Linked DNA regions of Homo sapiens. The gene in region 1 interacts genetically with each later gene. Each region holds a gene or a part of one and is shown on either strand. Other genes may lie near its edges.

Region 1 (7,261 bases):
ATCAAGGCTCAGGAATAACAGGGTCAGGGTGACTCTCGAAGCTGGGTGACAGGAACTAAGGAACAGGCTCCATTCAAAGCCACTGCTGGGCTATATCGGTTCAGTTGTCTTTTTCTCATTGTATCATATCCTTGCAGATTAAGTTCCCAGAAGGAGGGGGTCTGGTGTTTTCCCTCGTATCTTGCATCCACTGACTTCCCCGAGGATGAGGCCCCCTGATTAACACTCTTCCAAGTCTGCATGAATTGGGGAGGGATGATTACTCCAGAGAGATGGGAAATCAATTTCTTCCACCTGAGGAAGTAGCTTTGGCAAAATCGAAGTATTCTTCTGGGGAAGCAGCAAGACTGCCACTTGGCCGGGGCACCCCGCTGGGGGCTGGCAATGCTCTGCTTGCAGTGGGTCCTGGAGCCAGGCTCCTTTCCTGGGAGAAAGGGGTGTGTTTTTACAACACACAAAGGTGCTGCTATGGACTGAACTGTGTCCTCCCGAGATTCACATATTGAAGGCCTAACCCCTACTGTGACCATATTTGGAGACAAGACCTGCAAGGAGGGAATGACGGTTCAGTGAGGTCCTAAGGGCAAGACTCTGATATGACAGGATCAGCGTCCTAAGAAGGGACACAAGAGGGGGCTGTGCTCTCTCCCTCTCCACTGCATAAGGACATAGAGAGGAAGAGGGTCCTCACCAGAAATCAATGGCTGGCACCTCGATCTTGGACTTTGCAGCCTCCTGAATTGTGAGAAGATAAATTTCTGTTGTTTAAGCCACCCGGTCTATAGTGGTGTTTTTTTTTTTTTGTTTTTTTTTTTGTAGCCTGAGCAGACTAACACAGGTGCCATATGGACTGGCAGCCGATCTGGCCTCTATTCCCTCACCTATGAAACCAGATGGTCTCTAAAGCTCCTTCTAGCTTTAAAATGCAATGTGTCAATATATCCATGAATCATCTATCAATGCATATTTGCTTGCTGCTCAACTAAGTCCTGAGCTACAAATAATAGGAGGCTGTCGAGTAAAATACAGTATGCCCAGTTACATTTGAATTTCAGATATGTTTAAATCCATTTTTAGTGTAAGTATGTCCCACACAATATTTGGGACAAATATTTGAGACATTTGTTAAATCTGGCTGTTCTAGTTATTTGTCTTCTGTTCTCCAAATACTGTAACCTTTTGGAGGGAGAAAAACTGGACCTTACTCATCTTTGGATTCCCTTATGGTGGTGTCTGCCAGCTTTTTGGATTTCACTGACTAAACATTATTGGATTAAGTTTTGGAAGAAAAAACAAATTTTTATTTTGCCCAATAAAGGTATTTATAATAATCATCACTTTACTAAAGAAAAACCAGTTAAACTTTAAAACCTATTAAATAGACTCTCAGGATTTTATAATTAATTGTAAAAATTTAGTTTTACAACATATTCATTACATTATCCTTTTGTTTGCTTGTTTCTGAGGCAACCAGGTGATGCTCTGAACCATTTTGGCACTGCTCAGGTGACCAGTGTTTGGGAGCTTCAGCTGTGCTGTGTTTGGTTGAAGGTCTTATATGACTTCTGGACATTTTTGCTTATCTGCTAGGAAGCTCAAAGTCAAATTGCAGCTTGACCGCTACAGCTGTCTTCTCCTCTCCTTTCACTCCTTGTTTCCTGTGTTTTCTTCCAGGCCTTTAAACTTTTTTTACTAAATGAAGTTTCATTATAATCTACCTTAAGAACTGGTGAAATACAGTTTTTTAAAAAGCCTTGCATACAGTAAGACCTCAGTAAACGATGCTACTGACAAAGCAAAGATGCAACTATTGAGTGGGGTCTAATTAGTTTACTTTCTGAAGATGATTATTCCCCCCAAATGCATTTTTTTTTGTTGTTGAGATGGAGTTTCACTCTTGTTGCCCAGGCTGAAGTGCAATGGCATGATCTCAGCTCACTGCAACCTCCGCCTCCAGGGTTCAAGCGATTCTCCTGCCTCAGCTTCCTGAGTAGCTGGAATTACAGGCATGCACCACCACGCCCAGCTACTTTTTGTATTAGATGGGGTTTTGTAGAGATGAGGTTTCACCATATTGGCTAGGCTAGTCTCGAACTCCTGACCTCAGGTGATCTGCCTGCTTTGGCCTCCCAAAGTGCTGGGATTATAGACATGAGCCACCACACCCGGCCTCAAAGGCATATTTTAATTTCCTATTCTTAGAATTTTAGAATGTTAGAGCTAGAAAGGTAATCACATCTTCTAACTCAATTCCAGACTTACTGAATTGGAATTTCTGGGGTAAGATCTGTGAATCTATAAGAATTCTAGTATCTAACATGAGGATCCACTGGTCCACAGGCCCTCTTAGCATATGTCAAAGCAGGGTATCATTTTACAGGTGAGACGACTGAGGCCCAGGAAAGCGAAGTGATGGTCATATGAATCGGTGACAGACATGAGTCAAGTGCACGGCACCCAGCTTTCTTAGTAAATTAACTGACTGTTGGGAGACAGGAAGGGCAGGGACAGGTGTTCATTAACTAGTTTCTGTTCACACTATACAGTAGGAAATGAGCGCTAGGTATAGAGAAACGGACGATATAAGAGATTTACCTCAAATAATAACAACATCCCTCTCTTACCTGTTCTGGGATTTCACAGTTCACTAAGCACTTCCCCTCATAATACCTTGCTTTGATTCTAATAACAAGATTTACCAAGGTGGTATTGTTTTCTACATTTACTTTACAGATGAGAAAATGGAGGCACAATCACTGGGTATGTCAGGTCAATAAAAGGGGTAGAGCTGAGATTTGAATACTTTCTACTACTAAACCTCACACAGATCCCCTAAGACAGGCAATGTCTTTGTCATTTAAGACAAATGGGCTGGGCGCAGTGGCTCACACCTGTAATCCCAGCACTTTGGGAGGCTGAGGCAGGTGGATCACTTGAGGTCAGGAGTTTGAGACCAGCCTGGCCAACATGGTAAAACTCTGTCTCTACTAAAATTACTAAAATCAGCCAGGCATGGCGGCATGCACCCATAATCCCAGCTATTTGGGAGGCTGAGGCAGGAGAATCATTTGAACCCAGGAGTCAGAGGCTGAAGTGAGCCAAGATTACACCACCACACTCAGTCTAGGCAACAGAGTGAGACTCTGTCTCAAAAAAAAAAAAAAAAAAAAAAAAAAAAAAAAAAAGGAAGGAAGGAAGAAGGGAGATTATTTATTGTTTCAAAAGTCACACAAATTCTACATTATTATTTTAGAAAATTCAAATCATTCTGAAAAATAGAGATTAAAAAGCTGAAAAGTGTATTTCATGCCACTCTGCTCCTGAACAGTTTGGTGACTTTTTAAGTTTCCTTCCCAGACCTTTATGAGTTTACATACATGTACAGGTAAGGATGAAAAAAAAAAAAATCAAACTACACACATTGCTGTGCTTCCTTTTTCTTAGCATGTCTGGTCCATTTTTTCAAATCCTTTAGTAGACTTGTTTGTTTTTAAATGAGCCATGTTTGAAAATAGAACAATAGCAACATTCATATGCACACTGATAGAGAAATGTTATATTTATCACCAATGGTGCTCAGGATGGCTCAGGATGTTGGTGCTCAGGATGGGGTAAAGTGACTCTTTAAGTCTCATGACTAATCTTCTCTCAAGAGGAGGGGCTATGGAATCAGAATCACAAGCTAGCTTAATAAAGCCTTGAGAAATATTATCAAATAGCTGTCTTAGTTTCCCCCTCTGTAAAAGGGGGACAAGAATGTGTTCCATAGGTTGTAGTGCGGTTAAATGAGGTAACTCATATTTATGCTAAACACAATGACTGATGACTACAATGATGACGATGATGGCAGCCGGGCGCAGCGGGTGGGGCTTAAATGGCAAGTATAGCAATACCAGGAATGGATGCCCCGGGGAGATACTTTTTATTAAGAGCTGCCAAGTTAGTATGGCTGTCTGGGATGTCCTCTGGAGACAGCCGACTCCGGGTTTGGAAACCTCAACGTCCTAGGCTTTCAGGACCTAGTGTTTGGCTAAACCTCTGGAGAACTACAACTTCCAGGGTGCACCACTTTCGCCCCGCCCATGACGTTGCAGCTCCCGTTTCTCGCCAGGCTCCCGGCCCGAACTACAAATCCCAGAAGACACTGCAGCCCCGCTCGCGTTCTCGTCTCATCATTCTTACTTTTGGAAGCGAAACTGCGGCCGCGTTGCCTGCTGGGAAATGTAGTTCAGCGGTGGCCTAGCCCTTCAGGCCTGGCCGCTACAATAAGGCTGGCGAACTCGCAGCGCTTGAATACCCGTGGCCTAACCGTCCACTCGGAAGACCGGTCCCGCTCGGGAGGCTCTGCAGTCGCGCCTGGGGTCAGGGCCGGGGGCGAATGTGGCTCGCGTTCTAGGCCTCCCTGGGTGAGAAAGTGGTAGACTGGCAGGAAGGCGGCGGAGGCGGACGAGACCAATGCCAGCCTGGAGGAGGAAGTGGGCCAATGGGAAGGGTGAATCCAAGTGGAGATCGTAGGGGTGGGAGTGGGGCGTGGCGCCCGCTTACCTTGAGGCTGGGTGAGGCTCGCCCCGAAATGCGGGGCGTGGGGGGCGGGGGGCAGAGGTCCCTGCCTAGAGGGGAAGAGGGGCGTCCATGTGGCGGAATGGATTTATGGTTTGGGGCTGATCAGTGGGTCTTATGGCCGAGTCTCTCTGGTTAGTGGAGACAGCTTACCAGGCCTGGGATCTGGGGAGTTTGGAGGTGCAGGAGATCCCTGGTTGGAAACTTAGGCAGGAGTGTGTTACCCAGAGAGACTGAGGGCTTCTGCTGTGCACCTCCAAAACCTTTTCCTAACCTCTTCACCCCTTCCTAACTGCTAATGGTTGGAGAAGGTGGAAGTTCTCTGGGGATAGATACTTCGTGGTGGGGGAGGGGGGAGGGGGGTTGGGTTCTGGCCAAAGGGAGCCCCAGCAGGGAAGGAAGGCTTTGAACCCTATAGCTGCCCAGAGGCCTAAGCAATGCTACTGGAGTACCCCTACATCATCATTGTAACCGTTACACAGCATTACATTAGATGCAGCCTATTTAGTCTGAACCAAGCCAGACAAATTGGTGTGTCCTGCCCGCTGCTTCTAAAATATTGTAAACATGTCTCAGCTCATAGGAAAATAAATGTTCCGGGTAAATTCATGGAAAAAAATAATCAGGGTGCAATATGGAATGTTTACAATGATCCTACTTTATAATAAATTCTTATATCTCCTAAATATGTGCCATTTTGTTATGGATGAAAAAAAATCCGAACTATATACTCTAAATTATTAATTTCAACTGTGGTTATTGATGGCTGGTAAGATTACAGAGTAATTTTATTCTTTTTTGTTTACATCTTTATGTAGCATCTTAATTTGCACAGTGAACACATAATTTTTTTTTTTCTGCTCCTTATTTTCCCAGGAGAGTCAGTCAGTTGCTCCGTGTGTTGTGTTGGAAGTCAGGTCCTAAGGCCAGCTGCTCTGGCTTGCACTGAGCCACAGGCAGACTGATTTGCCAGGAATGATAAAAAGGGGTGAATGTGAGGGGAGAATTCAGTGTGCAGGCTATGGGAGGCTAATGCTTTTTTCCTTCTTCTAGGTTGGAAAAAGACTATGTTAGCAAGTGTCACGCCATGGTATGTGGTTGGTTGGTCTATTTCAGTCTAATCTATTATGCTTTCTGGTTAAAAATGTCACCTTTCTCATTATCTGATGGATTTACGTTGCAATGCATAACTTTCTTAGGTTCTGATAACTCACCTTGGCTGGGCCATGTGAGTTATCAGAAGAGTTACTCACCATTTTGGCAGTGCTTCGAACCATTGAGTTACCATGTGAGTTACCATGTGAGAAGGAGAGAAATATTGCCTCTGAAATGCCTTTTTAGCTTTGGATTTGCTTTTTGCTTTTTTTTTTTTCTTTGAGAGTTTTGTTCTTGTTGCCCAGGCTGGAGTGCGGTGGCACGATCTTGGCTTACTGCAACCTCTGCCTCCCAGGTTCAAGCAATTCTCCTGCCTCAGCCTCCCAAGTAGCTGGGATTACAGGCGTGCACCACCACGCCTGGCTAATTTTGTATTTTTAGTAGAGATGGGGTTTCACCATGTTGGCCAGGCTGGTCTCAAACTCCTGACCTCAAGTGATCCACCTGCCTCAGCTTCCCAAAGTGCTGGGATTACACCCGACCTGCTTTTTGCTTTTTGATCAGGGTCTTTATTTCAGCATATGCTGCCTACTATTTCAGTGTGTGTGCAATTATAAAAGAAACTTTAATACATCCTTTAGTTGTGCTCATTATGCATTTTCTGGGACAAAAGCTTGTTAAAATCATGGTTGGAGTATGACAATTAATACATGTAATGTTCATTTCATTCTTCTTACTTTCTTCCACAGCTTTTGCCAACTTTCCAATTAAAGGTTGACATTCCTGCATAAGCATTTCTCTGTGAAAATGTCCTTGCCTCTTACAGAGGAGCAGAGGAAAAAGATTGAAGAGAATCGACAAAAGGCTCTGGCCCGCAGAGCTGAGAAGTTATTGGCAGAACAGCATCAGAGGACTAGCTCGGGCACCTCCATTGCTGGCAACCCATTCCAGGCCAAGCAAGGCCCATCCCAAAATTTCCCAAGGGAGTCTTGTAAGCCAGTGAGCCATGGTGTCATTTTCAAGCAACAGAATCTCAGTAGCTCATCTAATGCTGACCAAAGACCTCATGATTCCCACAGTTTTCAGGCAAAGGGAATATGGAAAAAGCCAGAAGAAATGCCCACAGCCTGCCCAGGCCACAGTCCACGTAGTCAAATGGCTCTCACTGGAATCTCTCCTCCCTTGGCACAAAGTCCTCCAGAGGTCCCTAAACAACAGCTCTTGAGTTATGAGTTAGGTCAAGGTCATGCTCAGGCTTCACCTGAGATCAGGTTCACACCCTTTGCTAACCCAACTCATAAGCCTCTGGCCAAACCAAAGAGTTCCCAAGAGACACCAGCTCATTCCTCTGGACAGCCTCCCAGGGATGCTAAGTTAGAGGCCAAGACAGCAAAAGCCTCCCCTTCGGGGCAGAACATTTCTTACATCCATTCTAGCTCAGAGAGTGTAACGCCCAGGACAGAAGGAAGACTCCAGCAGAAGTCAGGGTCCTCAGTCCAAAAAGGAGTGAACTCTCAGAAGGGAAAGTGCGTAAGGAACGGCGATCGTTTCCAGGTGTTGATTGGGTACAATGCGGAACTCATTGCAGTGTTTAAGACCCTGCCCA
Region 2 (7,025 bases), on another chromosome or scaffold:
TCTGAGGACCTTCAGTTTACAGCTTTGATTCAGCAGTTTCCTTTTCCTGGAGCTCAGCCTTTTCCACAAAGTGTTAACATTGCCAGGAACCTTCCAGTCATCCTCCCACTACTCTGATGCAGGGAGCCATCATTTCATCTTTTGACAGCTCATCTAAAATAGGAGGAGTCACAGTTGCTTCTCCCTCTATTAGGACAGAATTCAGTAAAACAGCCCAAAATCTCATTTTTTTTAAATTTATTTTTATATTTATTTATTTGAGACAGAGTCACACTCTGTCACCCAGGCTGGAGTGCAGTGGCACAATCTTGGCTCACTGCAGCCTCCACCTCCAAGGTTCAAACGATTCTCATGCCTCAGCCTCCCAAGTAGCTGAAATTAACAGGCACGTGCCACCACACCTAAGTTTTGTATTTTTAATAGAGACAGGGTTTTACCATGTTGGTCAAGCTGGTCTGGAACTCCTGACCTGAAGTGATCCTTGCACCGCCTCCTAAAGTGCTGGGATTACAGATGTGAACCACCATGCTCAGCCACATTTTTTTTTAAATGGTGTTAACAGTTTACATTTTTTTCTTGCCATTTTATTTCATTTATTTTATTCCTAATGACTTAATGTTTTCCTTTATATTGGAAACATGTTACAGTTTTCTAAAGAAGTTCAGGGAATCTTTTAATACACAGCCTATCTTCCCCGAAGTGTCTTTCTTCCAAAGCAGAAGCTTGGGGGTTGATGGGGGCAGCTGCGCCACCTGTTGGCCTTTTAAGTTAATGGCGTCCAAAGTGGGTTCTTTCTATTATAACTGTTTCAATATTGTGCTACAGTTCTCTACACCCCTGCAAAGTCAGATTGCATATCATTATGAGATAAGATGTCTTCTGAGTTTTGAAATAAATGGATTTCTGGTTAAATTTTAGTTTTCTATAAAGAATGTGGGCAGCCTTGGTGAATTATTAATACCTGTGTAATAGTAAGGTGGTGGAATTATAGTTAACCTCATTTTAAGTATAGCCAAATGCTCTTAGTATAGCATGGATTGGTTCGAGGTGATGTTGTAAAGTTGGATTTTTAAGAAAGAATGGAAATTGGCACTAAGAGTACTGTCAAAAGCATTTGTTTGAAAAGTGGATTAAATTCCCAAGTACTTTTCTTTCATTGCTTTATTAACTAAATCAGGTATATAAAACCCATAGGCCCTATTCAGATTTTCTTTACCAGTTAGCAGCTTTCATTGTGAAAACATCTGAGTCCCTTTAGACAGCTTTTTGTTTATTTGAGACAGTCTCAGTCTGTTGCCCAGGCTGAAGTGCAGTGGCGTGATCTTGGCTCACTGCAACCCCTGCCTCCTGGGTTCAAGCGATTCTCATGCCTCAGCCTCCTGAGTAGCTGGAGTTACAGGCTCCCACCACCACGCCCGGCTAATTTTTTATATTTTTAGTAGAGATGGGTTTTCGCCATGTTGGCCAGGCTGATCTGGAACTCCTGACCTCAAGTGATCTGCCTGCCTCAGCCTCCCAAAGTGCTGGGATTACAGGCATGAGCCACTGCTCCCAGCCCCTTTAGACAGCTTTTACATAAACAATTGGATACACCAGGAACCCCAGTCATCCCTTGTGCTGTGGATGCATCCTGGTTCCCTGAAAGAGGCAGCATCATGGTACCCATGTTCCAGAGCAGTGTGTCGCAAACTCTAGTGTGCATCCAAGTCTTGTTAAAAATGCAATTTCTGTATAGGATTCAGTAGGTCTAGGAGGGGGCCTGGGATTCTGCATTTCTAAACTCCCACATGATGCCAATGCTGCTGGTCTGTGAACCACTTGTTGAATAGCAAAGTTCTAGAAGAAGGTCTTATTAGGCTTTTCATATGGGAAATCTGGGCTTGCCTAGTATGGATATATATTTTTTTATTCATATTCCACCCACCTAACTTTGAAGAAGAAAGATGCCTATTTCTTTTCCCCACAATTCCTTTCTTCCACTCCCTGCCCTATCCCTTCCTCCCCTTCTTGAACAGAGGCTGCTTAGCTTAGCAGTGGCAGGAGTCCCTCTGAGGATTTGATTTTTAAAAACCATTGAAGAGGTGTAAAGGACCCTGCTTGCTGAAAGGAAAAGGAAGAGTGACTGGGCCTCCCCCAGGTCATCCCTGTCCTGAGCAGGCACCTGGGAACAATTAACTGGCATAGTCTCCAGAGAATGACCCAGGTAAATATATGCTAAAGAGAAGGAGAATTTGTACAAGTAGATATAAATCAGTATGTTGTCTTTGTTGTTGTTGCTACTATGTGTCACCAGACCTTTATATACCATGAGAAGGCAAACCATTATTAAAGAGAATTCGCTAGCCCTGGGTATTTATGCTTAGAACATGAATACTATACCTCACTTTTTGGAACCACTTTTTTCTCTAGGTAAAGTCATGAAGCTGAGCCCCAAAGCAGAGGAAGTAGCTACGTTCTTTGCAAAAATGCTCGACCATGAATATACTACCAAGGAAATATTTAGGAAAAATTTCTTTAAAGACTGGAGAAAGGTACTGTAGCCCATGTGTTAATATCCTAGTACCTTGCAAAACAATCAAGTACTAAGTAATAAATTATCATTTTGCAAAACATTTCCTGATGTAAAATTTGAGTTGTATGGATTTTGTTGTATTTAAACTTGCGTATTTTTTGTCTTCATTTACTATATTATGTAGGGTTTCTGTCCAACAAGAGTACTTGTATATCTTTGCTATTGGCTCTCATGTGATGGCAGGTAGGTGGGGGTTATCAGATTAGGCCAAACAGAAAACCTCAACTCCAGTTGCGCACAGGAAAGTTTGTCGCTGCAGGACTGCCCCGTGTCTGCTGTTGCAAAGAGAAATGTTAATCTGATGTCCCTCTCGCTGTTAATTCTTGCTCATTTATTTTAGGTACTTTCTACTCTTGAAACCACATATACTATATTTGCCTAGGTGATTTTTTAAAATCTCATTATTCTCAATTTGGATAATGTGGACAGAGGCAGCAGTAAAGTTTACTTCCTGAACTAGCTCAGAAAAAGCAGACTTAATAAATGAATAGAATAGGGGTAATGTTTCCAAGAGAGAATCAGTATGGGATTTCAAACTTGTATTCATAATGCCTGGGGGCTGTGTGCCACGGAGTCTAAGAAACCACATAAGAATTCATTTTTTTCCATGATAAGTCATTTTAAAACATTTTAATATTAGTAAGTACATATTTTATAATAAAGTAATACAACTGTATTTTTTTGTTTTTTCAAAATTCATTAATTGAGATTGGCTACTTCCAGAAACCTTTGACTGAAAAAATGGTGCTTGGGTGTATTTGCAAAGAAACCCAAGGACTTATTAGTGTATTTTCGTTGTTTTTCTTTCATCTCCCCATTTTCTTTTGACTAGGAAATGACTAATGAAGAGAAGAATATTATCACCAACCTAAGCAAATGTGATTTTACCCAGATGAGCCAGTATTTCAAAGCCCAGACGGAAGCTCGGAAACAGATGAGCAAGGAAGAGAAACTGGTACTACAGAATTTATTAAACCTCTGGAGAATTCTGGAATTGTGATTGGTTCATTTAACTTTCTTCTTGGTTCTTATGACACAACATTAACATCAGTAATTTCACATCATTCTATGCTAAAGACTTAGAGTTCTCAAAGTCTAAATTTTCTTAAAGGTTTTAGTTAGACTGAAAATTGTGAACAAGTACTTTGCTCAGTAGCTCTGTACAGGAATCTTGGTGCTTCAGTGACCTAAAAACCAGTCAGTAACTCCAGCCAATAATATAGTAATTAAGGATGGGCAGACCTGTCCCACAGTGGCTACTGGATATTAAGGATTTAAGACAGATGAAATCATATTGGCCATGTACCTCCCTGCTCTTTGATCTATTTTACTCTGGAATCTTGTGATGCTCATCCATCTCCATCTTCCAGCCTTGGCCATCCTCATTACTGAAGGATCTTTCTGGTATCCAGCTGGGATGTCATTTTTCTTCTACAGGCTGCCTGTTTTTGTAAAAAAAAAAAAAAAAAATTTATTGGAACCAGCTGCCTCTACTTGTCTACATATTATCTACGGCTGTGTTTATGCAACAATGACAGAGATGAGTAGTTGCAAAAGAGAGTAGTTGCAAAAGAGACTGTGTGGCACTCAAGCCTAAAATATTTTCTATCTAGAAAAAGTTGTCAGCCCCTGAACTAAAGGAATCCAGGCTAGAATTTCATTTTTACCAATCGGAAGTCCAGAAGTTAAGGATTTTAAGGAATTCTTTGCACTTCAAATTCCTGTAGTTTCAGTATTTTAAAGGACTTGCGTGTTTACGTAATTCAGACCATTGTATTGATATAACTCATTGTTTCATGGTACTTATTTGGTCACTAGTTTAAAAATTAATGCATTACTATAAGAATGTTAATTGCATCAGACTTTGTGTCTCAGGTAAATCTTATCCTCAATATTCCAAGTTAGTGAAATTTAGTATATTATTTACTTCAGGGGCATTTTGAAACTTAAAAGATCACTTTGGAGCTTTGTTCTTAGAATATTGATCCAAAGATAGATTTTATAAACATCCCCTTGTCAGAGCCTCTGCCAAGGACACCTGCTGCCAGCAAGGTCTGAATCTGTTCCCACCCACAAGGCAGCACAACTTAGTTAAACTGAATCAATAAGTATATAAAACGCAGAGTCAATAGAGGGTAAGGAGGCTCAAAATCTCCCCCACCATCCCTCACCTTTTTGGAGCAAGGATCATAGTATAGAGTGTATATACCTGTATACCTACAAAAAAATTAGTGACAGATCTGTCTGAGCTTAAAAACCCACGTTTTTAAGCTGTTTAACTGCTGTTTAATTAAATGGCTTGAGCTATTCTTTTATGAGGCTCTATCAGAGACTCTTCTCCATTTCCTGTTTTGATAGTACTCAGTAAAACAGTATGAATTTTTAAAGTACATTTAAAAACACCCAAATAACATTTACAAACATATATCCTTTAAGACACAAGAATCAGTTTTGAATCTAGTTGAAATCAATCCTTATAGGCAGATCTTTTTGGGGAATTTTATGATATTTAAGTTTGAGAAAACCACTAGAGGTTTTCCTTTATTTGAATTTATTTTTTAGTGATTTTTCAGACTTTCCTCTACCTTGACTTAGTCTCCCACAAGAGATAAAATGCATTAGTAGAGAACAGCAATCTGAATCTATTTTGAGTACTTTCTTGCTGTCTTCCAGAAAATCAAAGAGGAGAATGAAAAATTACTGAAAGAATATGGATTCTGTATTATGGATAACCACAAAGAGAGGATTGCTAACTTCAAGATAGAGCCTCCTGGACTTTTCCGTGGCCGCGGCAACCACCCCAAGATGGGCATGCTGAAGAGACGAATCATGCCCGAGGATATAATCATCAACTGTAGCAAGTGAGCTCGCACTTCATCCTATGGGCCAAAAAGGGGGTGGAGGGCGTCCTTTATTGTACTTGGGAATATTTCCCAGGTTACACAGGACTGTTTGGGAAGGGAGATACTTAAGAGCAGGACAGTATTTCATGCGTAGGTCTCCAGATGTTTTTGAGGTACAGTTGTCTCCCCTCATCCACAGGGGATATGTTCCAAGACCCCCAGTGGATGCCTGCAACTTCGACCCAATTGCTGTCACTTGGAACACATTTCTGTTGATGTCTTCCACCCCCAAATTTAATGTCTTTTCCATGTTTATTAAGTACTTATCACATAGAGTGGCTATAACTTTTGCAGTCTGAGGCACAACAGCAAAACTAGCACGACTTTCTTTTTCCTTCTTCACAATTTCACAGATGGAAGGTTAATTCTTACCTTAGATCTTAGCAACTTCACCATACAGTTTTTTTTATTAAGTCGATAATTTCCACCTTTTCATTTAAAGCACTCTGTGCAGCTTCTGTATGGCATATCCAAATTGCCAACATCACCACTTTCACACTTTGGGGCCTTTATTAAGTAAAAGAAGGATTACTTGAACACAAGCAATGTAAAACCATTAAAGTCAACCTGATAAATAAGGCAGCTACTAGGTTACCCATGGGCAAGTGACATATACAGCATGGTATGTTGTATATATGGTTCACGCATCCCAGGTGGGACTACAAGAGATTTCATCATGCTCCTCAGAATGATGTGCAATTTAAAACTTACAAAATGTTTATTTCTGGAATTTTGTATTGAATATTTTCGGATGACAGTTGGCTGAGGGTAAGTAAAACCATGCATAAGGTGGGACTACTGTATTGACTGTTAAGAAGGAAACTTGGAAAATTATGCTCAGCAGATAGGTCCACTTGGGGTCATGAAAGGTGAAATTATTCCTCACATCTTATTTCACTATCCTCGTGCTCTGTTATTTCCAGAGATGCCAAGGTTCCTTCTCCTCCTCCAGGACATAAGTGGAAAGAAGTCCGGCATGATAACAAGGTTACTTGGCTGGTTTCCTGGACAGAGAACATCCAAGGTTCCATTAAATACATCATGCTTAACCCTAGTTCACGAATCAAGGTAAGGGGATAGTTGAGAGCTGCACTGGTTCATGGTGCTGATAACCTTTTTTTGTTGAAATGTAACGTTCTCGTCCTCTAGAATCACTTTGACAAATTAAAAATCCTCCCCATTGAAAGAAGGCAAGTACTTTCATAGTTAGCATTATGGTGATCTTCCTACAGTGCCTCCATTTTTTTGGTCACATTGTAATCTTATTTATTAATTCACAAATATTTACTGAAATCCCAAATGTGCCCCACACAGTATACATTTGATGCTAGGAATTATGTTGGTAAACAAGATAGACGTAGGCCCTGCCTTCATATTGCTTAACGTCCAGTGGTCAGAATGTGTTGAAGTATGGTGATTGTATATTGGCCTCTGCAGATGTCTTCTACTTCCTCACCTCTCTTGGTTATGAGAAGGGAATGTAGTTTCTGTATATCCTGAAACAAGTTGTAAAATCTAATGTCTTACATACTTCTGGCTTCCTGCAGTCT

Evidence for each region.
Region 2: of SMARCAL1 (region 1) and TOP1, changing one suppresses a phenotype caused by changing the other (phenotypic suppression), as found in Homo sapiens cells (one study listed by BioGRID).

What each region holds. Positions count from the first base shown.
Region 1 is NC_000002.12:216,408,243-216,415,503, forward strand, and holds the start of SMARCAL1 (SWI/SNF-related matrix-associated actin-dependent regulator of chromatin subfamily A-like protein 1), read left to right. Parts: upstream 1-4,241; 5' UTR 4,242-4,406; intron 4,407-4,522; exon of another isoform or gene 4,523-4,556; intron 4,557-5,613; 5' UTR 5,614-5,650; intron 5,651-6,404; 5' UTR 6,405-6,462; coding exon 6,463-7,261. UniProt on the Homo sapiens protein: ATP-dependent annealing helicase that binds selectively to fork DNA relative to ssDNA or dsDNA and catalyzes the rewinding of the stably unwound DNA. Rewinds single-stranded DNA bubbles that are stably bound by replication protein A (RPA).
Region 2 is NC_000020.11:41,094,811-41,101,835, forward strand, and holds part of TOP1 (DNA topoisomerase 1), read left to right. Parts: intron 1-2,409; coding exon 2,410-2,531; intron 2,532-3,183; exon of another isoform or gene 3,184-3,404; coding exon 3,405-3,527; exon of another isoform or gene 3,528-4,014; intron 4,015-5,245; coding exon 5,246-5,433; intron 5,434-5,847; exon of another isoform or gene 5,848-5,982; intron 5,983-6,361; exon of another isoform or gene 6,362-6,398; coding exon 6,399-6,543; intron 6,544-7,025. UniProt on the Homo sapiens protein: Releases the supercoiling and torsional tension of DNA introduced during the DNA replication and transcription by transiently cleaving and rejoining one strand of the DNA duplex.